Regions from separate parts of the Homo sapiens genome. Here all the other regions are linked to region 2. The links come from fine-mapping of genetic effects on plasma protein levels. Region 2 holds a variant in brackets. A gene starts in each other region. All regions are shown on their forward strands. Region 1 holds the start of CRIP2 (cysteine rich protein 2). Region 2 holds the start of PON1 (paraoxonase 1). Region 3 holds the start of C19orf12 (chromosome 19 open reading frame 12).

Evidence for each region. PIP is the chance, under the fine-mapping model, that this variant and not a neighbour inherited with it causes the effect. The UK Biobank Pharma Proteomics Project read protein levels with antibody pairs (Olink). The fine-mapping took linkage between variants from a reference panel, not from the people measured, so its PIPs are less certain.
Region 1: it holds the start of CRIP2, and the variant in region 2 is fine-mapped to the plasma level of the CRIP2 protein (UK Biobank, PIP above 0.99).
Region 3: it holds the start of C19orf12, and the variant in region 2 is fine-mapped to the plasma level of the C19orf12 protein (UK Biobank, PIP above 0.99).

Annotation. Positions count from the first base shown.
Region 1 is chr14:105,474,502-105,482,645 of GRCh38, forward strand. CRIP2 (cysteine rich protein 2) reads left to right here and starts at 320. Exons shown (of 8, transcript NM_001312.4): 1 at 320-404; 2 at 3,765-3,859; 3 at 3,949-4,006; 4 at 4,230-4,370; 5 at 4,478-4,546; 6 at 4,624-4,718; 7 at 4,935-4,992; 8 at 5,085-5,661. The coding sequence starts at 362. The coding sequence ends at 5,152. RefSeq lists silencers at 1-52, 233-342, 6,426-6,575 and enhancers at 6,316-7,037, 6,706-6,815, 7,596-7,915.
Region 2 is chr7:95,321,056-95,329,230 of GRCh38, forward strand. PON1 (paraoxonase 1) reads right to left here and starts at 3,477. Exons shown (of 9, transcript NM_000446.7): 1 at 3,347-3,477. The coding sequence starts at 3,420. RefSeq lists a silencer at 3,421-3,600. The variant G/A (reference allele first, on the strand shown) is at 3,528.
Region 3 is chr19:29,709,748-29,717,896 of GRCh38, forward strand. It overlaps C19orf12 (chromosome 19 open reading frame 12), which reads right to left and starts at 5,514. Exons shown (of 3, transcript NM_031448.6): 1 at 5,378-5,514. RefSeq lists a silencer at 5,049-5,838 and enhancers at 6,009-6,108, 6,654-6,873.

The DNA.
Region 1 (8,144 bases), not on the chromosome of region 2:
ACCCTGCCCGCCGCCCCGGGGACGGCCCGGCCAGGCGGCCCCGACGTCGCCATGGAAACAGCCGGGGCGCGGGCGGCGCCGCGGTCGCCCGGGCGGGCCCCTGTAGACGCCACCTCCGGCGCGAGGGGCCCGGGGGCGCCAGGCCTGGCCCGGCTGCCCCGCACCCGCCACCCCCGGCAGGTGCGCCCCGCCCCCGCGGCGCCCCCAGGCGGCCCCCAGCCCGGGGGACGGGTTATCGAGGCCCCGCCCCGGCCGCGGAGCCAATGGGCGCGCGGACAGCCGGGCAGGCGGGGCTGGGCGCGGGCGGCGGCGGCCCGGAGGAGAACGGGCGGAGGGCGCGGGCCGACCGGGCGCACCGACCATGGCCTCCAAATGCCCCAAGTGCGACAAGACCGTGTACTTCGGTGAGTGCGTGCCCGCTCCCGGCCCGCTCGGTGCATCCCGCCGCCCTTCGCGGCCAGTCCCGCGCCGCAGAGCCGCGGCGTAACTCGGGGTGCGCCCGGCCCCGGCCCCGGACCGAGGATGCGCGTCCCGGAGGCTGGCTGGCCGCGCTGCCCAAGCGGCTAAAGCCAAAGGGTGGGGCTGCGCGAAAGCGGGGGCGGTCACGCCCGAACCCCGAAGCGGCTTGTGGGGGCGGGGCAGGGACCACCCGGGCGGGGCTTGTGGTGCCCCGGGATGAGGCCAGTGTTTGGGGGAGCGCTCGGGGATCCGCGGACGCATCCCGGTTCCTCGGACGGCGCCGGGCGGGGCGGGGCAGGGCGTGGCTGTACGCCCCGGGTGCGTCCCGCGCGCTCCCGTGGGCCTGGGCCCTTTCTCCTGGACCCCCTACACCCGCTTCCCCCGGGAACAAGTGGCCGGGAACAGTGACCCCCAGCTCCCACTCCGGGCTCCGCTGAGCTGGGCTGGGCCAGGTTTGGACTCTGTCGGGATTCAGTCCAAGCGGGGGCGACCTTGGCCTCTGCCTCCTGCTTGTCCCGACGCATTCCCTTGGCGCCAGTTCCCCCAGGAGTTTCACACGGGGGTAGGGTGGGGGCGGGTGTGACACGCGAGTTCCCGCGAACGTGAGAGGGACCTTGTGCTCAAGCAGCCCAGGTGTCCAGGATCCCTGCCTCCTCAAGGTCAGAACAGCCCTGGACAGGATGCAGGTGGTGGCGGGAAGAGGGATGTCTCGCAAGGCGGCCCTCGGTCTAGCCCCTCCGGCAGGCGCGCTCCCCCCGTCTGGGCTTACTCACTCTCTGGGCCTGGGTGCGCCCTTCCTACCCCCTTCCTCCTGGCTGATTCGCTGCCCAGCTTTCTCCAGGGTGGTAAGGTCCCTGCCCACCTACCCACCAGCTGCTGCACGAAGGGGGGCAGACTTAGTGAAGCAGAGAGGAGGGCCGGGACCAACAGGGCGCCTGCCCTGGTCGCCCCATACCCAGAATGCGGCCAGGCTGCAGGGAAGGCCGCCACTGGGCTTCCCCGGCTCACAGGCTGGAGGGGGTTGAGGGGAGGTTGTATTTTGCCCGTCCCAGAGGGGAGGGACCGGATTTGGCCTGGAGTGCTTCTGGCGTGGCTGGGAGCCGAGGGGCTTCCGGCTGCCTCTCCTGGAGCCCGCTCAGCCCTCAGTCTCTGTCCCAGCGAGGGCTGTCTCTGTAAGGCTTAGGGTGGGAGACGGTCCCCAGGGCCCTTCTGCAGTCCAACTGCCCATGACTTTACCCCAGGCCGGGCCAGGCCAGCCTGGGGCTCTCCAGGGTCTCGGCCAACAGTCCTGTGGACAGCCCGGAAAGGCCTGCCTGCCTGGCCCGCCCAGCCTCTCAGCGGAAAACAAAGGCGCTTCAGACCCGGCTGGCTTCTGTCCTGCCTGGGAGGCACTGTGAGGGCGAGGGTCCAGAATCCTGCCCACCCTCACACCAGGCTGCCCCCGCAGCTCATACCTGAGTAGAACCCAGGCTGGGATGTCGGAGCACATTGAGGAGGCCACCCCAGAGCCCATGCAGCCAGGGTGGGCAGCTGGTTTTCTTCTGAGCCATTAGACCCAATCGATTCTGTGTTCCCAACTCGGACCCGTAATGTGTGGCCATTGACCCACCCAGTGGGTCTGAGGGCCAGTTCCCTGCCCCCACTTGGCCCACGTCCCAGAGCTGGCCAGAGCACAGTGCTGGCAGCCCTGGGCTGCAGCTGCCACGGCCGATAGCCACCGAGACTTCCTTGCTGCTGCTGGGACACGCCTGCCCACCGTGCAGCCAGCCCCTGCCTGCCCTGGTGTGTCCCAGCTTCCTTGAGTGGAGTGGTTCTGGTCAGAGGGCTCTAAGCTGGTGCAGCCTTGTGGTTGGGCTGGTGTCCTGGAGGCTGGCCCTGGCCATGCCCAGAGGGTTGTACCAGGGCCACGGAGAGCCAGTATTCACAGCCCTCTACCTAGTAGGCCACCTGGGGGATCCCATCTCACTGCCAGGAGCAGCACCCTTGGGCCTCTCAGAGTGGGCTTCGCCCTAGCCAGATGCCCCTCCCCGATATCTGCCAGACAAAGGGGGCTGGGCCACTTGCTGAGAAAGGGAGCTGGGAGAGCCACTGGTCCTCGGCCACCTGAGGGGCTTGGCCAGATTCTGCCGGGCAGGGTGGGCCCAGCCTGCATGCTCCCTCCCCCCAGGGCCTGCAGCTTGTCCCCTTCCCTTCAGAATTCCGGCTCTGCTGGGCCCTTCCTGCCCCTCCCCACCTCTTCCTGCCTGGCTCCCTAGGGAGGCCCCTGCTTCCATCCACTGGGAAGCAGTCCAGTAGCCCCAGTGTGGGGGTGGGAGGCAGTGGCAGAGGGTCCCGGACCCTCAGCAGCTGCCCTCAGATCTTCCATGCCAGTGGCAGCCAGGGGCATTACGGCGGGGGGAGAGCTCAGGGTTTAGGACGAGGAATCCACAGACAGATGAGGGTCCCGCCTGGAGGACCCACGGGGACGGGGCCTGGCCTTCCCATGAGGGAGCTGGAGGTTCTGGGGCTGCACCTTTGACTCAGCAGCGGGGTGCTGCCAGCCCCATCAGGGCCCAGTTGGTGGGGATCAGGGGCGTGTCAGTGCGAGGCAGGTGTGAGAGGGAGAGCAGCATGTGTTGAAGCAGGTGCACTGCAGAGGCAGGTGTGTGAGTGTAAGAGAAGTGTTTGAGGGAATGACAGGTGGGGGAGATGCATATGTGTGGGGGGAGGCAGGTGTGTGGGGGGAAGCGGGTGTGTGTCTGAGGAAGCGGGTGTGTGTGGGGGGAAGCGGGTGTGTGGAGGCGGGCGTGTGGGGGAGGCGGGTGTGTGTGTGAGAGGAAGGTGTGTGGGAGGAGGCAGATTTGTGGGGGGAGGCGGGCGTGTGGGGGAGGCGGGTGTGAGGCGGGTGTCCGGGAGGCAGGTGTTGGAGCGCGGGCAGGTGTTGGAGCGCGGGCAGGTGTTGGAGCGCGGGCAGGTGTTGGAGCGCGGGCAGGTGTTGGAGCGCGGGCAGGCTCGAGCACAGGCCCCTTCACCGCAGGCACTGAGGGGACTAACAGGGCAGCCCCGGGCCCCTTCTCAAAGGCGGCTCTAGCGGGGTTCCAGGGCTGGGGGCGCTGAGACCCAGAGGGAGAACAGGGCCTGGGGGCGACGGGCTCCTCCGGGTCTCAGAAGGAGGGGCAGGGCCCGCCAGGTGGAAGGAAGGCGCCTGGGAGACCTCCTGAAAGTGGGGACCCCCGGAGCGCGTGGGGGTGGTGGCTGCCAGGTGGGGGCGGAGGGGGTGCGGGGCGCGCCCCGGCCCTGACCCCCCTGCCGCCCCTCCCGCTCAGCCGAGAAGGTGAGCTCCCTGGGGAAGGACTGGCACAAGTTCTGCCTCAAGTGCGAGCGCTGCAGCAAGACGCTGACGCCCGGGGGCCACGCCGAGGTGAGCCCCACTGCGCGGCGCGGGCGGGGGCGGGGGTCGCGACTCCCGCCACCCTCAGGCAGGGTCCTGACCCGCGCCCCTCTGCGCAGCATGACGGGAAGCCGTTCTGCCACAAGCCGTGCTACGCCACCCTGTTCGGACCCAAAGGTGAGCTCCGGCTGCCCTCGGCCTGCCCTGGGACCTGCTGGGAGGGGCGTGGCGCTGGCGCTGGGGAGGGCTGGGGGTCCCGGCCGCCGTGGATCCCCGCCCAGAGTCCCTGCCACCCTGGAAAGCCTAGTGCCCCCCAGTCCCCAGCGGGCCGTTTTCTGAGATGCCCGGTGGCCGCGGCCCCCACCCCACGTACCCCCGCCCCACGTACCCCCACCCGCAGGCGTGAACATCGGGGGCGCGGGCTCCTACATCTACGAGAAGCCCCTGGCGGAGGGGCCGCAGGTCACCGGCCCCATCGAGGTCCCCGCGGCCCGAGCAGAGGAGCGGAAGGCGAGCGGCCCCCCGAAGGGGCCCAGCAGAGGTGGGCTGGGCGCGGGCTGGGGCTGGGGGTTGTGGGCACGCGCGGGCTGGGGCTGGGGGTTGTGGGCACCCCCGGCCCCGCCCCGCCCTGACTCGTGCGCCCCACAGCCTCCAGTGTCACCACTTTCACCGGGGAGCCCAACACGTGCCCGCGCTGCAGCAAGAAGGTGTACTTCGGTGAGTGCGCGCCCGGGCCCCGGACCCCCGCCCCCGCCCCCGCCCCGGGGCTCGGCCTCACTCCTCCCCCTTTCCAGCTGAGAAGGTGACGTCTCTGGGCAAGGATTGGCACCGGCCCTGCCTGCGCTGCGAGCGCTGCGGGAAGACACTGACCCCCGGCGGGCACGCGGAGGTGAGGGGAGTGCAACGGGGCTTGGGGGCCGGGCAGGGGCGCGGGGTCGGGGGGATGAGGGTGAGAGGCGCGCCTAGAGGGGATGGGGGGTGGTGCTTCTGGGAGCTGCGCTGCCCTCTCCCCCACGGCGAGCCGGCCTGCACGTTCTGGAAGCCTCCAGGTGATGGGTCGGGGGAGTCTGTGGACTCCTCCCTCAGCACCCACCTTCTGCCCCAGCACGACGGCCAGCCCTACTGCCACAAGCCCTGCTATGGAATCCTCTTCGGACCCAAGGGTGAGTGTAGCCAGGGTGGTCCACGATGTCTTCCCTGCCCTCCCCTTCCCTCCACTGTTCCCCCGACCCACCCCAGCGGCCTCCCTCCACAGGAGTGAACACCGGTGCGGTGGGCAGCTACATCTATGACCGGGACCCCGAAGGCAAGGTCCAGCCCTAGGCTACAGCGGCTCTCATGATGTGGGCTCACCTGCGCCCCAGACCCTGCAGGGGCCCCCCTGCTTGGCTCTGCTGGGAGAGTGCTCAGCCGCCCAGTCCTGCCTGCAAGCCCAGGGCGAGTATTGGAGGAGGGGCAGCCACGGGCAGAGCACCATGCCCATCCCCGAGTCTCTGGTGTGTCTGCCCCCTCTGGCATCCTCTGGGCGTCCCATGATCCCTTCTGTGTCTGCGTGTCCGAATCCCCGTGTGACCCTGTCCCAGCATTTTCCCGCCGACCCTGCGTGTCCCCGTGGCGCTGTCCGCTCTCCCTCTCCTGCTGCCCACCCACCTGCCAGTGTTATTTATGCTCCCTTCGTGGGTGATGGCCACGCCCTCACCATGTCCCTGGCAGAGGGCTTCCCTCCGGGATCCCCTGCCTGGTGCCCACACTGCCTCGCAAGCGCTCGCCACCCTCACGTGGCTCACCTGCTGTTGAGCCTTGTGCTGTCAATAAACGGTTTGAGGATTGCAGGATTGTCTCTGCTTGTGGGATGGATGCAAATCCCAGACCAGGGTCCCTTTCTCCGGTCCATGCGTGCTCCCAGCCAACACCCCTGGGCCTGGCTGCTAGTGGGGGTGGGCTCTTCTCCTGGGGGTCATAGTGGGAGGTGGGGCCCTGGGATGTTTCTGAGCAGGAGGGAGGGATGGGGGCGGGGAGCGTGGTCTCCGGTTTGGGTGGTGGTGCCCACCCAGATGGGGAGGCAGTAAGAACGCCAGGCTGTGGGGAGGTAAGGAAGGTGGGAGGCATTCCGGGGCCAGGGTCCTGGCCAGGGTCAGGTGAGGGTGGGGTCCATGGAGGACAGAGCCTTGGAGAAAAGTTGAACCTAGAACCCTGAAAATACCAACAGCAGGCCTGAGAACCCGGAGCTGCCTGGGTGTGTGGACCCTGGCAAGCGCAGGAGGGGTCCGCCCTGAGAGCAGAGTGTGGCTGAGGAGGGAAGGGGGCCGGGGACCAGAGGAGGGGTCCTGGGCAGAGAATGGGGAAGCCGGCGAAGGTCGGGTGGGACAGAGGTCTCTGGCAGCCCCAGACTGGACTGGGATGCGCAGGAGGGTTTGGGGGCTCTGGTCAGAGCAAGGACTGGAGAGGCTCAGCGTGGCTGTTTCCAGCTTTTGTCCATAGGGTGATGGACAGGCTTTTGTGGACAGGCCTGCCTTGGGTGTGGCCCAGGGACAGAATCCCTGCCCAAGTGTTCTGGTGAAGGTTTTAGTGATGACCGACTCGCCCCTGGCGTCTTCATGGTCCAGGCTCTGCCCTTTCAGCCAGGGGCGCTGGCGGCTCCAAGGAGCTCTCCCCTCCCCCGCGCCCCGCCTTTGCTGTGCGCCACTCCTCGGGTGCCCACTAGAGGGCGCACTGTCCCATTCTGGCAGCACAGAGCAGAAACGTGGAGACCTTCCCCAGTGGCTGAGCCCTGTCCTGGCGCCATCTGGACTTCCCACCTTGGTTTATGCTCCTCTGCTCCTGGCACCACACCGAAGTTGCCTTGGCCCTTCCTTCAGTGAGGGGCACTCAGACCTGGCCACCTCCAGGCCCCTGTCCCCAGTGCTACAGGGTGGCCGGGGCTTTACGCCTCTTCCCTGCTCCCAGCCGTTGGCACAGCTCCCTGCCTGGCCACCCTCCAGCCCATGGGCTCAGACGGAGCTGAGCCTGGATGCTGAGCCCATTGTCCCGAGAGCAGCCATCCATGTCCTGGCGGGGCCTGGGCTGGCTCCGGGGTCCAGCCGTACCACAGCTGCCCTCCAGCCAGGCACCCAGTGCGGTCTCCTCCCACCTGGAATTCAGCCAAAACCCCCGGGGCCTGACGTTGCGGAAGGGACGGCCAGTCCCCAACCCCAGGCAGAGGGGAGGATCAGGCAGGTTCCAGACCCCTGCTCACAGGAGAGGCTGGGATGGTTCCCCTTCTCATCCCCTCCTGCCAGGCCCAGGCTTCCTTGTGTGTGTTGGGGGGTTGTTTCGGGAGAACTGAGAATTTCCGGAGTGCCCGTCTCCGCCCTTGCTGCGGGCTCCCAGGGTTGCATGGGAAATTCCTGCTTTCAGCTTGGCGGGGCGGGGGGCGGGGGGGGGACTGGAGGGCTCAGCTGGACCCCCCTCCCTTGGGAGCCTCCAGTGGAAACTATGTCGTGAGGAGAGTGGTGGGTGGTGTGCCCTTCTCTAAAACCTGGGCGGCGGTGGGGGATTTGTGTGCCAGAAGACCTTCCAGGGTCGGTTGCGGGGATGATGTGGGTAAGGGGTCTCCTCCAGAGATCAGCCCCTGACCCCGCCAGGGACAGCAGCACCCCCGACCCCAGGTCTGGCTGGGGCAGGACCATTTCCTGCGGGGCCGGTTTGAGGATGACGCCTGCCTGCCGTGTTTGTTTCCAAGTCATTGTCATGGAAACCGGGGCGGTTGTTGCTACTGTTTGTCTGGACTGCGTCGCTAGGCGGTGTTGCTGGGGTTGGCTGGGTGCCCACGGCACTAACAGGGCTCGCTTGGTGTCTCCAGCTCCAGGAAGCTATGCCCTCCCAGCCGCCTGCCAGCCAGGTGCTCCCTTGGGTGCCCACAGACCCAGATATCCCCTAAAAGGGAGGGGAATCTGGAATGGGCTCTTCTGCCTTTGGGCGTGCCTGCTTCTCTGTCCCTGCCTTGGGGGCTGCTCTGCCCTCAACCTTCACTCTCTTCTACTTGGACCTATGCCTGGCCAGTGAGGCGGCTCTGAAATGCTATCTGCTCCATCCCTCCCCTTCAGAACCCCTGGGAACCAAGTCCAGGGATCCACAAGGCCCTGGTGCCCCATGGGGCTAAGCTCACACCCCGGCGCTCTGTTGAACCGAGCTGTGCCGCTCCCCGTCTGTACCCCCACTGTCCAGTCTTCCCGTGTCTCCTGGCCAGGTCCCTCCAAGGTATCCCCCACTCCAACCTGGGCTGGTGGGGCCCTCACTGGTGCCCCCAGCCAGGCATCTTTGTGGGGCCAGCTCA
Region 2 (8,175 bases):
GAAGATGAAGAGAAGCCAGTACTCACAGAGATCATGGGATGAGAGAGAATGTAAGAGAGGGGAGAGGTACCAGGCTCTTTTCAATCAACCAGCTCTCTCGAAATGAATAGAGTGAGAATTCACTCACTCCCAAGGAGGTCATTAATCTATTCATGAGGGATCCATCTTCATGACCCAAACACCTCCCATTGGGCCCCACCTCCAACATTAGAGATCAAATACGAGGTTTGGAGAGGACGAACATCCAAACCAAGGCAGAAGTATTCGGTGAAAATACATGCTGGCTGCTCGCAGAAAAAAGCAGAGATCTTTGCCTAGGCATTAAGAAATCCGTATCGATTCTCAAACTCTTCTTGGGGCCAAATTCACTCTAATCAGTCTATTTTCTGCTACTACACACGCCTCATTCATTCAAATTGCTTTTCATGGCCTACTATGTGCCAAGCTCCAATAAGGGCTCTCACACATACTTCCTCATTTAATCTTTTTAGCCACCTTTGAGAAAAAGATGAATATTTACCCTGTTTTGTAGGTAAGGAAATGGAGGCACTGAGAGGCTGAGTAAATTGCATGTGGTTGCTTATTTAAGAGGGTAGAGTTGGGATTTGAAATCAAGTGTCATGATACTAAGGACTCTTCCCTGTATTTCTTTCATACCTCTTTTTATTTGCTCACACTTTTCCCTTCACCTAGAATGCTCTTTAGCCCATTACCCACTGGAAAGACCCCTACTCATGATGCTTTGTAGCTTCTCCAGTCTTCTGCATTGGGATTAATAACTCCTTAGTTTACCCTCAGGAACCTTCACATATACATCTGTCAACTTTCTTACCATAGTTGTCATAGTTGTCAGTTTCACAGCTGTCAGTTTTTGTTCTTTTGCTCCCAGTAGACTTTAAAATTGGTGAGTGAATACTGCAACCTATTCATTCCTATAACCTCCAGCAGAAACACAACGTTTGCAAAGAGAAGGTACTCTGCAGATGTCCACTGAAGTGTTTTGTGGAGATACTAGGCAAGTACATCAGACTGAGAAGATGGTGTTGGTTGCATTCATAGGGGAGACTGGAGGGTTGGAGGATTATTTGTCCTTATCTCAGACTTTCAATGAAGTATGATTATAATACATATTCAAGTATCACTCTATATTTTTGAGATCACATATGACAGCTATAAAAGCTAACGTTTACAGGACATCTGCTATATGCCTGATTTTTATATATATATATATACTTAGTTTTATTTATATGTTTTATATAAATATAAATATATGTATGTGTGTGTGTGTGTGTGTGTATATATATATATATATGCTGTAATATGTATTATTATCCCCTAATTTTCGGGTGGAGAAACTGGCTGGAACTTTTCTGGAATAAAGTGGTAAAATAACTTGAAAGTTGCAGAAATGATATCTAACCCAGGTCATCAGGAATCCACAACTACTCTCTTCCCACAACTGTGTGTTGCCTACAGTAAGCATGGAATGGCAGAAATGCATCGAGAGGCCCAACGTTAGCTTTGTGGTTTCCTTCTGAGAAGGGAAACTCAGTGGACTCACGTATTGCAATTAGCAATGTAGGGACAAGGAAGTTGCCATACAGATGCTGCAACATTCCATAGCCCAAGTTGGGGTAGGGGAGGGGAGCTGTTTCTACCATCATCCAAGGCATTCCCTGGACTTGTGCGGCACATACAGCCGACTACAAAGGTGGGAGACTCGTGGGTGGGAGACTCGTGGTCTAGGGGAACTCTCTCAGTTCTTTTCTCTGTACTGCTCCCACCTGGGAAACTCAGAAATCTCTTGAGGCATCCCTTGTGTGCTTCCTTAAGTTCCCTCCAGCCCAGGCATATATAGCTTCCTGTGAGCCGCACACACATACACTCCAAGTCTGAAGAAAAAAGGATGCATCTATCCTGGGGATTTGGCTTGCTCCTGATGCAGGCCTCATGATATCATCTCTTGCCTTCTCTCCCTGGGGCAGATTCATGATCTCTAATCCCCCAGGGAGTTTGTTCCATGACGCTGGTTCTGATTCAATAGTGTGGGGTAGGGCTTGAGATTCTGCCTGTACAGGGAGCCCCTAGGTGATGCTCAGGCATCTGGTCCCCAGACCCAGTTGAGTAGCTAGGTTTTAGGGGTTTCCAACAGTGGGTAAAATTTCCCTTCCTTCCTCTGTCTGGGTCACTCCAGGAGGCTCAGCAACCCATCCTTTATCTATATATTTTTATCTATACCTATAATCTCCTTTGGCAGCCACCAGCACTGTGATTAATAAAAACTCACAAACTGTAATTTTTACATGATTTAAAAGCCAAGAATACCAACTGCTTCTTACTTTTTTTCTGCACTCTGTAACTTAAAAAAATTAGAAAAACATCCACAATAAATAGTAAAAACCCATTCTGAATGTAAGCTTCTAATTAGTCCATAAGCTCATATAATTTTTTTATATTTAATTTTTATTAGGTTTTACTTTAAAGTAAATAAGGCATTGTTGACTAAGCCTTAGAGACTAGGATGATCTGTAGACTTTGAACTCCTGTTAAAAGTTATGAAACTTTTGATACATTCTTAAAATATCCCCACCCCCCTTGTATAGCACTTAACCCTTTATTAAATACTTTAAAGGGAAGCAGGGAACTAACATTTATTGAATAGCTACTCTGTCGCAGGCAGTGTGTATTACTATTTCCAGTTTACTGAAGCAGCTAAGGTTAGAGATGTAAAGTGATTTGCCCAAATCGCATACTCATGGGGCAGAGCTAAACCCCAGGACATCAGATGCTGGCTCCAGGGTTCCCTCTTCCCCGCCTGCCCCCACTGAAGCGAACCATCACAGCACACGTTAGCTCCACCTGCTCGGGTCCACACGCAGTTTTGCTGTGGCCCTCAGTAGCCTCAATTTGAGAATCTTCAAGCCTGGAAGGTTTGCCATGGCCAGGCAGTCAAGGCGCAGAAGCGACAGGGGCTCCTTTCTCTAATACACAAAATATCAGGAGAACCCCCAGCCAGGTTAGTTTGTTTCTTTCCAGGTTGAGAAGTGAATCTGTAGCCAGGGCACACAAATCTTCATGAAAAATTAATTCGTGTATGCTGACAACCTGGGCACTCACACCCCTGGCAATTGCCTCCTTATCCCATGTCTCAGGCCATGAGCAAGAGTTTGTTTTCAAGTGACACATGACGGCTGGACAAACATTTATGAAACCCCCGCAGAGTGTGCATCTAGCACCTGCTTGTAAATGTTCTGTTAACAGCCTGGACCCAACTTTCTGGGGGCTCGTGGAGCTGGCAGGGAGTGAGGAGGACGAAGGCTGCAGCCCTCACCACAACCCAACTTACTGGTAAGAAGACTGGTGGTTCCTGAAGAGTGCCAGTCCCATCCCCAAGAGGGTGAGCGCAATCAGCTTCGCCATGGTCGGGGATAGACAAAGGGATCGATGGGCGCAGACACCGACGGGCTAGGAGGCTCTGCCTGCCTGCAGCCGCAGCCCTGCTGGGGCAGCGCCGATTGGCCCGCCCC[G/A]CCCCTCCCCGCCGGGTCGGCAGCTAGCTGGGCCGACCAGGTGCACAGAAGGCGTGGCTTGCGGTCAGCCCCCACCGCAGGAGCTCAGCACTTTCAGCCAAAAGTCCCATTTTGCTCCTTCCAACTGTAAAGAGAGAAGACAGAGAATAGGTGCCTAGTCCAGTCGGGGAGGGGAAATCAAACAAGCTGAAGTAAATTGCCATGGGAAAGGACAGTCAAGCTTTGGTGAGCACTCACTTTGTGCCATCCCGGTCCTTGCGTCTCAGAGAGATTCAGTAGCTTGATCATGGTGACAGCCAAAAAGGTGCGGAAGGGAGGGCTGTAGTAGGAACCCCTAAGATCTAACTGTTCTCACCAGGCTACTACTCTGTGTCACCTTCCAACATCTGGATTTCAAGCATTTTTCTCTCAACACCACTCTGACTTTAGAGTTCACTCAAGTACATCCCCCACACAGCTCATTCATTTCCTCATGCAGCTGGCATTTATTGAGTACCTACTATGTGCCAGGCGCTGTTCTAGATGCTACAGAACAGGACAAAACGTCTTCCTCAAGCTTACGTTCATTCCAATGGGGGGAGTCAATTGAGAAATCAGCAAAACATGTCACTGTGGCATATATAATGCTCTAGGTGATGCATGTGTGTGTTATGGATATGCACATATGTTATGGAGAAAACACATAAAGCAAGAAAGGGGATAAGGAATACCCTCTGCTGAAGAATAGCAGTCAGAGAAGTTCTCACTGATAATGGGGCATTTGAGTAAAGACCCAAAGGAGGTGCCTCTGTACAACCATGTCTCTCTTCTCTGCTGTCTGCTGTTACTGTGAATGATTTGCTCCATGTCTCTTTCCTTCTCAAGGCTTTTGGTCCCAGTTATACCTTCTCTCTTCTGCAATATCTGTCCTTTCATCTCTTGTGGAATATTGCCAGCCAATACCAACATGCTTTACTTATCACCTTTAGCTTTCTGGGGGGAAGCTTCTTTGGCCTCACATTGTAACTACTGCCCTCTCTCTCTGCTCCTTCTGAACACTTGCTCTTAAGCCTTGAGCTACTATGTAAAAAACCTGACCACTCCACTGGAGCATTCACATGAAAGGCCATGAACATATGGAGAGGGAAAGTGGTCAGCTGAAGCCAACCTCTTAACCATCGGCACCAAGGAAGCAGAAATGAATGAAGTGGGCTATTAGACAAGCCCAGCCACCACAGCCTGGCCACCAACTGAATACCACTGGCTAAGCCACCCTGGTTAACACCAGGTGGAGCAGAAGAATCTACCTAAGAAGTAGAACCAATGAATCCAAAAGAGAAGAGTATTCGAAAAGAGGGGGAATGATGATCTGTGTCCAATGTGGCTATGAGTTGAGTATGCTTATGGCAGAGAAGTAACTACTGAATTAGATAACATGGATACAATAGGTGGTTTAATAAGAACAAATTCTACACGAGTCAAAAGAACACAAACCATATTAGAATGGGTTAAGGTGAGAATGGAAGATTGGAGATATTTCACAAGGTTAGCTGCTAAACCAAACAATCATTTTCTTATGCTCATAAACAGTGCATAAGGAATTTGGGCAGGGCCCAGCAGGCTACCTGGTTGACATGCCCACTGGGGTGTTTAACAGTCTTTTCAAAATGTGTCCAAAGGAAAACTCTTAATCCCCCCTGCCCAAACTCACACTTCAATAAATGGCATCACTACCATCCAGTTGCTCAAGTCCAAAATCTACATATCTTCTTTCATCCATCTCTTTTCCTCACACCCTCTTGCACCAAACAGATCAGTCAGTCCTATAGGCTCTATTTTGTATTAGTTATCGTATGCTGCATAACAAATTATACTAAAGTCTCACCATTAAAAACAACAAACATTTATTATCTCATCATTTCTGTGGGTCAGGAATTCAGGCATGGCACAGCTAGATACCTCTGGCTCAAGGTCTCTCATGAGTTAGCAGCTGAGCTGTCAGTGTGAATTGCCATCTTATCTGAAGGCTCAACTGGAGTGGGTGAAGGAGGTGAGATCAGCCTCCAAGATTACTCACACAGCTCTTTAGAGACTTCAGTCCCTTGATACTTCAGTCCCTTGATACGTGGGCCTCTCTACAGAACTACAACAGAACAAGGTAGCTGACTTTCACTAGAATGAGCAATCTGAAAGAGTGAGATAGCATGCCTCCAAAATGGATGCCACAATCTTTTATTAACCTAACTTCTGAAATGACATCCCCTAACTTCTGTCATATTCTGTTTGTTAGATGCAAACTGCTAACTCCAGTTTACATTCAAGGTGAGAAGAATTAAACTTCACCTTTTGAGGCTCCCCTTCATATGCCTTGAGGCATATTGATATGGTTTGGATGTTTGTCCCCTCCAAATCTCATGCTGAAATGTGATCCCCAATGGTGGAGGTGGGACAGGGTAGGAGGTGTTGGGTCATGGTGGCAGATCCCTCTGAATTGTCTTGGTGCCATCCTCATGGTAATGAGTGAGTTCTCTTGCTCTGAGTTCACGTGAGATTTGGTTGTTTAAAAGACTATAGCACCTCCCCCCACCCCCACTCCCTCTCTTGCCATGTGACATGCTAGTGATGCCCATCACCTTCCCCCATGATTTTAAGCTTCCTGAGGTCCTCACCAGAACCTGAGCAGATGTTGACACCATGCTTCCTGTACAGCCTACAGAACCATGAACCAATTAAAACTTTTTTTATATAAATTACCCAGCCTCAGGTGTTTATAGCAGTGCAAAAATGCCTAGCCCACATATCAAAGAATGTATAGATAGCTCTTTGAAACCACTACAACTTTCAAATAATCTTGAATCAACCCAATTTTCCCCATTTCCACTGCCATTACTCTGGTTCAGGCTGCTATCATCTCCAGGCTAGAACAGATTCTCCATTGTTCTCTCCCTAATCACCCTCCCCACAAATCCATTCTTCTTACCAAGGCCCACGTAATCCTTTAAAAATGTAAATCAGATTATATCATTTCCATGCTTAAAATCCTCCCTCTTGTGGCTTCTCATTTTATTTTCTTATTGTGGCCTGAAAGGCCCCACAAGATCTGGGCTGTGCTTATCATCTGACCTAATTTCTTATAATTCACTCAGCATAACGTTGCAGCAACATTAGCTTTTGTACCATTCGGTACACACACCAAGTTTATTGCACTTCACCATCATTGTCTTTGCTATTCTTTGGCTAGAATCCTCTTCCCATCCCCCTGACTTAACTTCCCAACTACCCCTTGCATTTCTCTTTCTCTTCATTCAGGTCATAGCTTAAATGTCACTTCTTCTGAGAGGCCTTTCCCAATATTACCATCTAGAGTAGACTTCCTCCACACCCTCTTCTCCTGAACCCTCTCTCTGCACCAGTTACTAAGACCTCAGTGCTGATATCAAATGGTTAGCACCAGTACAGAATTACTGGTTATTAGAATAATGACATATTTCTACAGTGGTTGTTAAATAACCACTTCCTCAGACCCTCCAAGAGGTCCTCCACAATACTGACCATTCTCTCTTCCCTGGAATCCTCCCTCACTTTACCATGATCTAGCAACCAAGGTATTATTTCCTGGCACAGTAGGGTCTCTAGGATTCTTCTCCCAAATAGTGTTTTGTTCAGCTGGGACTGAACTGACTGATTGAGGCTGTGCCATACCTGGTGTTAAGGACTCTATCACCACTGTCTTCACAGCACTCCATAGGAAATCATCTTCCTACTTAATGCCACCTGCCTTCCCCTACTAGCATGTAAACTTTTAGAGGTCACAGACCTTAACTTGCTAACTACCTTCTCTCTAACTCCTAGAACAGTTTCTGGCACATAGTAAATGCTCAAATATTTGTAAAGGGAAGGAAAGTACAAATGAATGGCAAGGGGTTGGGGATAAAGGAGGCAGGAGGAGCAGGGATTGAAAGATGGTTTGGGAGTAGACTAGAGATGCCACTCTCTCCTTTTCTGACCCAGTTGTCCTATGGGCCTTAAAGAACCCAAGTGGTCTTTCTTGCACAAAAATCCATGGTATTTGTTTGAAGTCACTGACTATTTGTTCTCTTTGTTCTCTTTTACCTCTTTTCACAACCAATCTTGTCCTCCTTCCTTCCCTTAACCTACTTATCTCTTTCAAATCCAAGAGCAAAGGTTTCCCATGTCAATGCACACTTTGAAATGGTCTGCTTTTTCTGGAGCTCTTGCTCTGGGCTTTTGTTTTCATTTGCTCTTTTGCCTGAAACACTGTCTTTCCATAAGCTTTTTATTCCCCATTTTAAAATACAAACGTCTTTATTGAGATATAATTTATATACAATAAACTGCACACATTTATAATATATAAATATAATTATATGTGTTTATAATTCAATATATGTCATTATATATAAATCAATAAGTTTTGGCATATATATTCACCCATGAAAACATCACAGGCATCAAGGTAATAAATATATCCTTTGCCTCCAAATTTCTTCATGCCTATTTGCAATCCCTCTCATACCTACGTCCACCCCACTTCCCTACAGATGTATTAGTTATCTACCATCATGTAACAAACAAGCCTGAAATGTGTCAGCTTATAACAACAAACACTTATCACCTCTCACTTTCTGTGGGCCAGGAGTATGACTAC
Region 3 (8,149 bases), not on the chromosome of region 2:
TTGAACTCCTGGGCTCAAGAGATCCTCCTGCCTTAGCCTCTCAAAGTGTTAGGATTACAGGCGTGAGCCACTACATTTGACCTTAATATCTTTGGGTTATATGTTTTATGAGGTTTTTTTGTTTTGTTTGTTCGTTTGTTTTTAAGAGACAGTGTCTCTTGTTGCCCAAGCTGGTGTGCAGTGGTGCGATCATGGCTGACTGCAGCCTTGAACTCCTGGGCTACAGTGATCCCCCCACCTCAGTCTCCTGAGTAGCTGGGGCTAAAGGCATGCAACACTACGCTCAGCTAATTTTTTGTTTTCATAGAGACAGGGTCTCGCAATGTTGCCCAGCCTGGTCTTGACTTCCTGAGCTCAAGCAATCTTCCTGCCTCAGCCTCCCAGAGTACTGGGATTACAGGTGTGGGCCACCGTACCCAGACATGTGTGCTTTTCTGACCCAAGGATGATCCAGAAGCAGAAGTCCCTACTGTAAAATTGCTCTCCCAATCCTGGGATATAATTTTGAGCCCAGAGAACAAACCCATGAATCCATGAGAGGACCGCAAAGCCAGGTCCTCAGAACTTCTCTGCAGTCCCAGGAGAGCATCCTGCGCTCCTGCCCCTGTAAATTTCCCTTCTTTTTCCCCGTTGGTACACATTAGACCTGTGATTCTCCACAAGTGCACGGGAATCACTGAAAACCTTGTCAGATACAGCCAGTATGGGAGGGTAAGATTCTGCATTTCCAACAAGCCCCCAAAGTGCTCCTCTGATCTCACTTTGGGCAGCAAGACCCCAAGAGGGCATAACGCAGGACTCTGACATTCGTTACTCAGTCTTCAAATTCAGAAATTGCAAACAAGCACCCCTAGATATGTCTTTTTGTCCCCATGGAGTATGAGAGGCAGTGGGAGGGCAGGCCTTGTGAGCCCTGCTCACATAAGGGACTGGAGGAGCACTCAGGCCTGGGGGTCCCTGCTCTGGCTACCCTGTGCCCTGGGTCTCCCAAAACCTGGTCTCCTGCTTTCCAGGCCCTGCCCAGCTCCTTTGCTTGCTGACAGGTTGAATGCCTCCTCCTTCTCCCCAGAAGAGAACCCCCTTCCACTATTCCAGTGGTCAAGATTTGTTTACATACAAATGTCTAAACGATAAAATGGCATTATAACAGTGTCAGGACTGAACAGGCAGAAGCCACCTGGAAATGGGGAGACGGAGCGCAGAACCTGATTTATCCAGTCACCATGGTCCTGAAAAGCTATCACACAAACAAAATGACATAGATAGCTAGATAGAGATATACAGAGAGGTTTTTTTTTTTTTTTTTTTTTTGAGACAGAGTCTGCTCCGTCACCTAGGCTGGAGTGTAGCGGCGCGATCTCGGCTCACTGCAGCCTCCGCCTCCCACGTTCAAGCGATTCTCCTGCCTCAACCTCCCGAATAGCTGGGACTACAGACATGCACCACCACACCTGGCTAATTTTTGTATTTTTAGTAGAGATGGGGTTTCACCATGTTGGCCAGGCTGGTCTTGAACTCCTGGCCTCAGGTGATCTGCCTGCCTTGGCCTCTCAAAGTGCTGGGATTATGGGCGTGAGCCACTACGTCCAGCACAAAATGAGATATATTTGAAGTACATATTAAAGTAACCAAAGGAAATAATTTTACAGTAAAATCTTACAAAAAGCTCAAAATCCTGGTGTAAAATATCTAATCACCTTTGAGCTTAGTTCTGGTTTATATCCAGCTTTTCATCTGTCAATTATATTGGAAAAAGAGAGGCACTGCCCAGGTCTCAGGAGGGCCCCTTTGGAGGCTGCAAGGAACCTCCCTTTCCCCGGGCGTGAAGACCCTGAGCCCTGCCATGCTTGGTCTGCAAGGCTGGCTTCCAGGCCAGCACCCAGACACCACTCCCAAAACAGGTTTTCTGCAGTTTTGGGTCTGCACTCTCAAAACAGTTTCTGCACAGCAAGAAAATGCATGTAGAAGTGGAAAGAAGGAAGGCAGGAAACAGATACATAACCACTTTAGCTCTACTGGCTTCCCCCCCCAAAAAAAACCTAGCTTCCGACCTGCTCCGAATGACTTGAGGTGAAAATCTACAGAGGCTAAAGAGATGTCCTTGCAAAAATGCTACTTCCAGCTCTACCTGCTCCAGCCAGGCCAGCATCAATGTGAGAGGAGAGAGAGAAATCAATTAGGCAAATAGTTAGGGCAAGGGTCCTTGGCAGAATTCCCTTCTAACAAAAAGCAGCCTAAGAAGTCGTTGCCCTTTCAGGAAACACAGATAAGGAAGGCAAGCTCTAACACAGAAAGCGGGTCCCCTGTGTGACATACAGACATATGGTGGGCCCCAGTAAGCACAGTCCTCTCCCTTCTTAGAAATACTCAAGACACGGCCGGCCACGGTGGCTCACGCTTGTAATCCCAGCACTTTGGGAAGCCGAGGTGGGCAGATCACGAGGTCAAGAGATCGAGACTATCCTGGCCAACATGGTGAAAACCCATCTCTACTAAAAAAATACAAAAATTAGCCAGGTGTCATGGTGCTCGCCTGTAATCCCAGCTACTTGGGAGGCTGAGGCAGGAGAACCACTTGAACCCGGGAGGTGGAGGTTGCAGTGAGCTGAGATCACACCACTGCACTCCAGCCTGGCAGCAGAGTGGGACTCCGTCTCAAAAAAAAAAGAAAAAAGAAATACTCAGACACAGAGGCTTGCATGGCACTGATAAGAAGAGCTACCCTGGACCAGGCATGTCTACCTTGGAGTGTTCTTCCCCCCCACCACCCAACCTTTTTCACACATGCACAGTAGGAAGAAATAAGCAACATGGAGTAGTAACTCAGGCTAAGAAGCCCACATGTGCACTAGAAACAGTGGGGCGGGGGACTCAGAAATTCGCACCTTATGTAAATGAAGCACCCCTCCCACCAGCTTTTCTATAAAAACCCTTGCATTTCACTGTAAAATGGCAACCCATCTTTCTGGGACCCCTCTCTGATCCAGAGAGCTTTCTTTCTTTTGCTTATTAAACTTCTGCTCTAACCTACCCTCTGGAGTGTCTGCGTCCTTGATTTCCTTGGCCATGAGACCCAGAACTTCAGTGATATCTCAGACAATGAGGCAGGTTTCACTGAGACACAAGCCCAGGGTTCTGCAGAATGGGAGGGCCAGCAGCTATCACTGCGTGTGTGAGGGCAGGCAGAGGAAGTCACTGTGTTTTAATAGTCCAGCACCACGGGTAGAGATGTTGTGGCTGACTCCATCCAAGGTTCAATTTCTTTGTAGTAATCATTTCAGAAGTTAGAGCATTAACAGGCTCTTGTTGGGGAAGAAAGGTTAGTAACTCCATCTCCTGAGCCCTTGCTAAAAAGCTCAGCTTCCTGAATTCTCCAGGCTCACCAGATTGAGAGGGAAGCCCACCCTGCTCCTTCTCCCACCGCAAGGCTGCCTTTGTCTGTAAATGACAGGGAAGTGGGTGAGGAGGGAGGATGGGGACAGACCTTAGGGGGTGGGAGTGTGGCTCCCCCTCCCCCACTGTATCACACCTATTTCACACTCAGATTTATCCACATACCAGGCCTTGATCACAGGAAGCCCATCTGCCAGCCACAGGGAAGGCAAATGCCAACTGGAAGCCCCGGTTTCTTGCAGGCGCCCAGGCTGCTCTGACAGGTACAGAGAGACGGAGACAAGCCCATCTCACCGAGAGCGGCCTAGCTTTCTGAGTTTGGACCAGATTGTAAGAGATAAGGGAGAGGAAGGCTTCAGATAGCTATGAAGAGAGCTATCTGACCTCCAAGTACCCTTTTCTTTAACAAAAAATTAGATCTGGCTCTTGTCAACATTGACCTCCCACCTCTCCATACCCCAGCGCAAAGGCAGTAGGTGGATCCCACCAGCAAACAGTTTTGGATTAGCTCATAGTTGTTGTTTTTTTAAAACAAATTAGTTGCCAATATTTAAAAATCAGGAGATTTTGCATGCACCTCAGATTCCTGATTTCTCCTGAAAAATCAGAAGACCAGATCACATTGGACCTGCCATTCTGTGTAGCAATGGAGGCCAGGGCTGAGCAGGGGCCGTCCCCTGCCCACCCCCATACAGCAGGGCCCTGCCCTCCCTACCCCAGCTCCTCCTGGCAGCATGCACCTTACCTATCTACTTGATCAATAAACAGATCACTTCAAAGCTTCTCAAAGTATCCCTCTTTCTTTTTTTCTTTCTTTCCTTCCTTCCTTCCTTCCTTTTCTCTTTCTCTTTCGTTCTCTCTCTCTCTCTTTCTCTTTCCCTCTCCCCTTCCTTCCTGCTTTTTGTTGTTGCTGGTGTTGTTGTTGTTTTTTCCAGAAACGCAGTCTCCCTGTGTTGCCTAGGCTGGTCGGGAACTGGCCTCAAGCAATTCTTCCGCCTCGGCCTCCCGAGTAGCTGGAACTACAGGTGCTATTCCAAGATGGTGAAACCCCGTCTCTACTAAAAAATACAAAAATTGGTCGGGGTGGCTCACGTCTGTAATCCCAGCATTGCAGAAGGCTGAGGCAGGTGGATCGCAAGGTCAGGAGTTTGAGATTAGCCTGGCCGATATGGTGAAACTCCGTCTCTACTAAAAATACAAAAAAATTAGCCAGGCTTGGTGGTGTCGCCTGTAATCCCAGCTACTAGGGAGGCTGAGGCAGGGGAATTGCTTGAACGAGGGAGGTGGAGGTTGCAGTGAGCCGAGATCGCGCCATTGCACTCCAGCCTGGACAACAGAGCAAGACTGTCTAAACAAAAGCTCAACAAACTACCTGCCATCCCCAAAACTAATCTCACCTCCTAAAGCATTAACGACCCTTCCTGACCAAATCTAAACTAGCGCCCAGATTTTCTTCCCATATGGCTCAGCCCAGCTCCGCTGCCCCACAGGTGTCCTGTCAGGATCCGCTTCACATTTATAATACCTAGCACCCCACCCCCAGCCCCGCCCCTGCCCCACCAGCCACCCCCACTCTACCCCACCCCTACCCATCACATTCCGCACCCCACCCCCGCCAAACCCACATCCCCACCCCACCCAACCTCACCCACTCCCACCACATCCACCACCCGCACCCCACCCCCACCCACCACACCCATGCCTACGCCACTCCTGGGTGACAGCGAGCCAGGGCCCGGGACTCTAGTCCCAGCTCTGCTGCTTACTTGTGTGACTTCAGCCTCTCCATGCCTCAGTTTCTCCATAGGGACAATGACTACACTAACAGTGTCCACCCCGGCACCGGGAGGGCCGGGCTCCCGGCAGGGCGGGGACCCTCTCCCCAAGGCACTCCCGGGTCTCCAGGCCTGCTCTTGGGGTGCCCCCTCCTCTCGCGGGGCGCGGCCTGGGAGGCGCCCCGCCCCGGCTCCGGGCGCTCCTTTACCTGGGGGAGCGGAGGTCTACGCGGCGCGCTCGGCGATCAGACGCGGCTGCAGCCCGGGCCTGGCAGGCCCCGGGCTCCCCGCCCAGCTCCCCAGCCCCGCGGAGGGTCGCGCAGGCCTTGGTGGCGGCCCCGGCGCTGGCCCCGCCCTCCGTCCCACCTTCCGGCTGCGCCGGGCCTTCCGGGAAGCCACGCGCCGGGCCAGCTCCTGGCTCCGAGCTGCGCCCGGCCTTAGGGGGAGCCGGGGGTCGCTGCTGGGCACCCCCTCCCCGGTCCTGGCCCACCCCGCCGCTGTCACCGGGGCCCTGGCTTGGGTTGCGGGTGGCGTAAGGAGACGAGGCGCCCGGAGAAGAGTCCTGGGAACCGCAAGGCCGCGCTCCCGCAGGCCCAGCCCTGCCTTTCTCCCACGCGCACGCATGATCACATCCGGGCCCCGCGCACCTGCCTCCAGGACCGCGGGGACCTCCCGGAGACCTCCCTCCCTTTGGCCTGGAGGACCCCTCTCTCCCCGCAGCCTGGGCACAGAAGAGAGCACAGGGGCATCTGGAGGTCAAGGGTGCTGCGTCAGTATTTGGTGAATGTGTGGGCCGGAGCCAGATTTCCTCTGTTCCAGAGCCTGCTCTGGAGCCTCTGGGTCTGGGGGTTGCAAAAGGAGAAGCAGGTTGGGTGGGACTCGTAATCCCAGCTGCCAGTGAGGCTGAGGAGGGAGGATTGCTTGAGCCCAGCAGTTCGAGCGTGGGCAACACAGTGACATCCCATCTCTACAAATAATAATAAAAATTAGGCCGGGTGGGTGAGTCATACCTGTGACCTACAGCATTTTGGGAGGCTGAAGCGGGAGGATTGCTTGAGCCCAGGAGTTCGAGGCTGCAGTGAACTATGATCCCACCACTGCACTTCAACCTGGGTGACAGAGTGAGACCGTCTCTTAAAGAAAGAAAAAAAAGGAAAAGAACTGGCTTTGCTCTTAGGAGTCTTGGATGGGGACCAAAGCTGAGGCAAGGCAGCCTCTTAGGAAGGTGCAAAGGGCATGAGGCTGGGGTTGCAGAACTGCCTGGGAATACTACTTTATTGAGGCCTGTGGAAAGCTGTCCCTACTCTTGTCATGCAAGGTCTGGCCTTGAACCATCTCAAATCCAAAAGTGGCTTCTGGGGGGCTCTATAGAGAATTAATCCTAACAGGAACCCTGCAAAGCAGGCATGGTTGTCACTGCTATATTACAGATGGGAAGCTCTAAACACAGGCTGCTCTGCCCAAGGCCATCCTGGTTAGAAAGTTTCAGGGCCCAAACTCCAGCCTCGGTCTCGGTATCTCAAAGTCTCCGCCTGTGACCAGCACTCTGCCTGCTTTCCAGGGTGCCATGGGCACCCAGAGGACGGACCCTTTTCCATTTTTAAAAGAATGGAACAAACGCTCTTAATACCAAGCTTCCCCAGGCCTTGGCTGGGATAAAACAACCCCATTTATTCCTGAATCGGAGCTTTTGCTTGAGTTTGGGTGACTTTCAAGAGGGAAAGTGAACTGAGGCCAGGGGAACTCAGCTTGCTGCCTTCCTGGGGCCTGAGTGTGGCGCTCCCGTTTCTCTGCGGGCAGCTCCCTCTGGCGGCACATTGCAGAACTGGCCTGCAGACTCCTCCCCCAGAGATAGTGGGGAAGAGGGCCTGTGTAGGGAAAGATGCTGGGAGTGAAAGAAGCTTCAAAGTCCAGGCCCTCCAGAGAAGGCAAGCATGTAAGAGGTTCATGCAGCCCAGCGCGGTGGCTCACACCTGTAATCCCAGCACTTTGGGAGGCCGAGGCGGGCAGATCACCTGAGGCCAGGACTTTGAGACCAGCCTGGGCAACATGGTGAAACCCCATCTCCACTAAACATGGAAAAATGAGCCAGACATGGTTGGTGCAAGCCTGTAGTCCCAGCTACTCGGGAGGTTGAGGCAGGAGAACCGCTTGGACCCGGCAGATGGAGGTTGCAGTGAGCCGAGATCGCGCCATTGCATGCAAATCTGCAACCCATCAGCCTCCTGGGCCTCATTCTGATACGAATGCAGGCATAACATGACCGCACACTCTGAACCCCAGAGATGGAGCACACAGTGCCTCATGCTCCTAAAGGCAACTGCGGCCTCCTGCACAGTGAGCAAGGCGTGCCGTGGGGTCTCGGTGGTGGCGCGGAAATGGCACTGGCCCAGCACACAGCGATGCTTTATGCTGCTTACAGTGACCTAGGGAAAGTTCTTCCACGTCTCCGTGCCTCAGTTTCCTCATCTGGGAAATGGCAACAAGAGTAGTACTTATCCTATAGGGTTGTTCTCAACATAAAAGGAGGTAATATATATGAATCTAGATTATTCTTGTTTACATTACAGAATGTGAAAATGAGCGGCTTCTCCAAAGTCCCATGAGCCTCATGGGCCCAAGGTAGTGGGAAATCCAGTTCTACCCCCACCTTGACAAAACATTCTCTTGCTGATGGGCCCAACAATGCCCTAGGGTGCTAGGTGGTGTTCACACGGCCAGCCAGAGTCAAAACTCAGACGGGGCCAGCGTTCTATGCCCTCACTTTCTCCCAAAGCTGAGTGCACCAGCTCCTAAAACTTCCATGGCTCCTTCAGGCTAAAGCCACCCACCTAGACCAGGGCTGGATGATCCGCAATGTGGGCCACACCCAAAAACCCTATAGCTTCTTTTGTTGTTTCTTTTTTTTTTTTTTTTTTTTTTTTTTTTTTGAGACGGAGTCTCGCTCTGTGGCCCAGGTGGGAGTGCAGTGGCGCAATCTC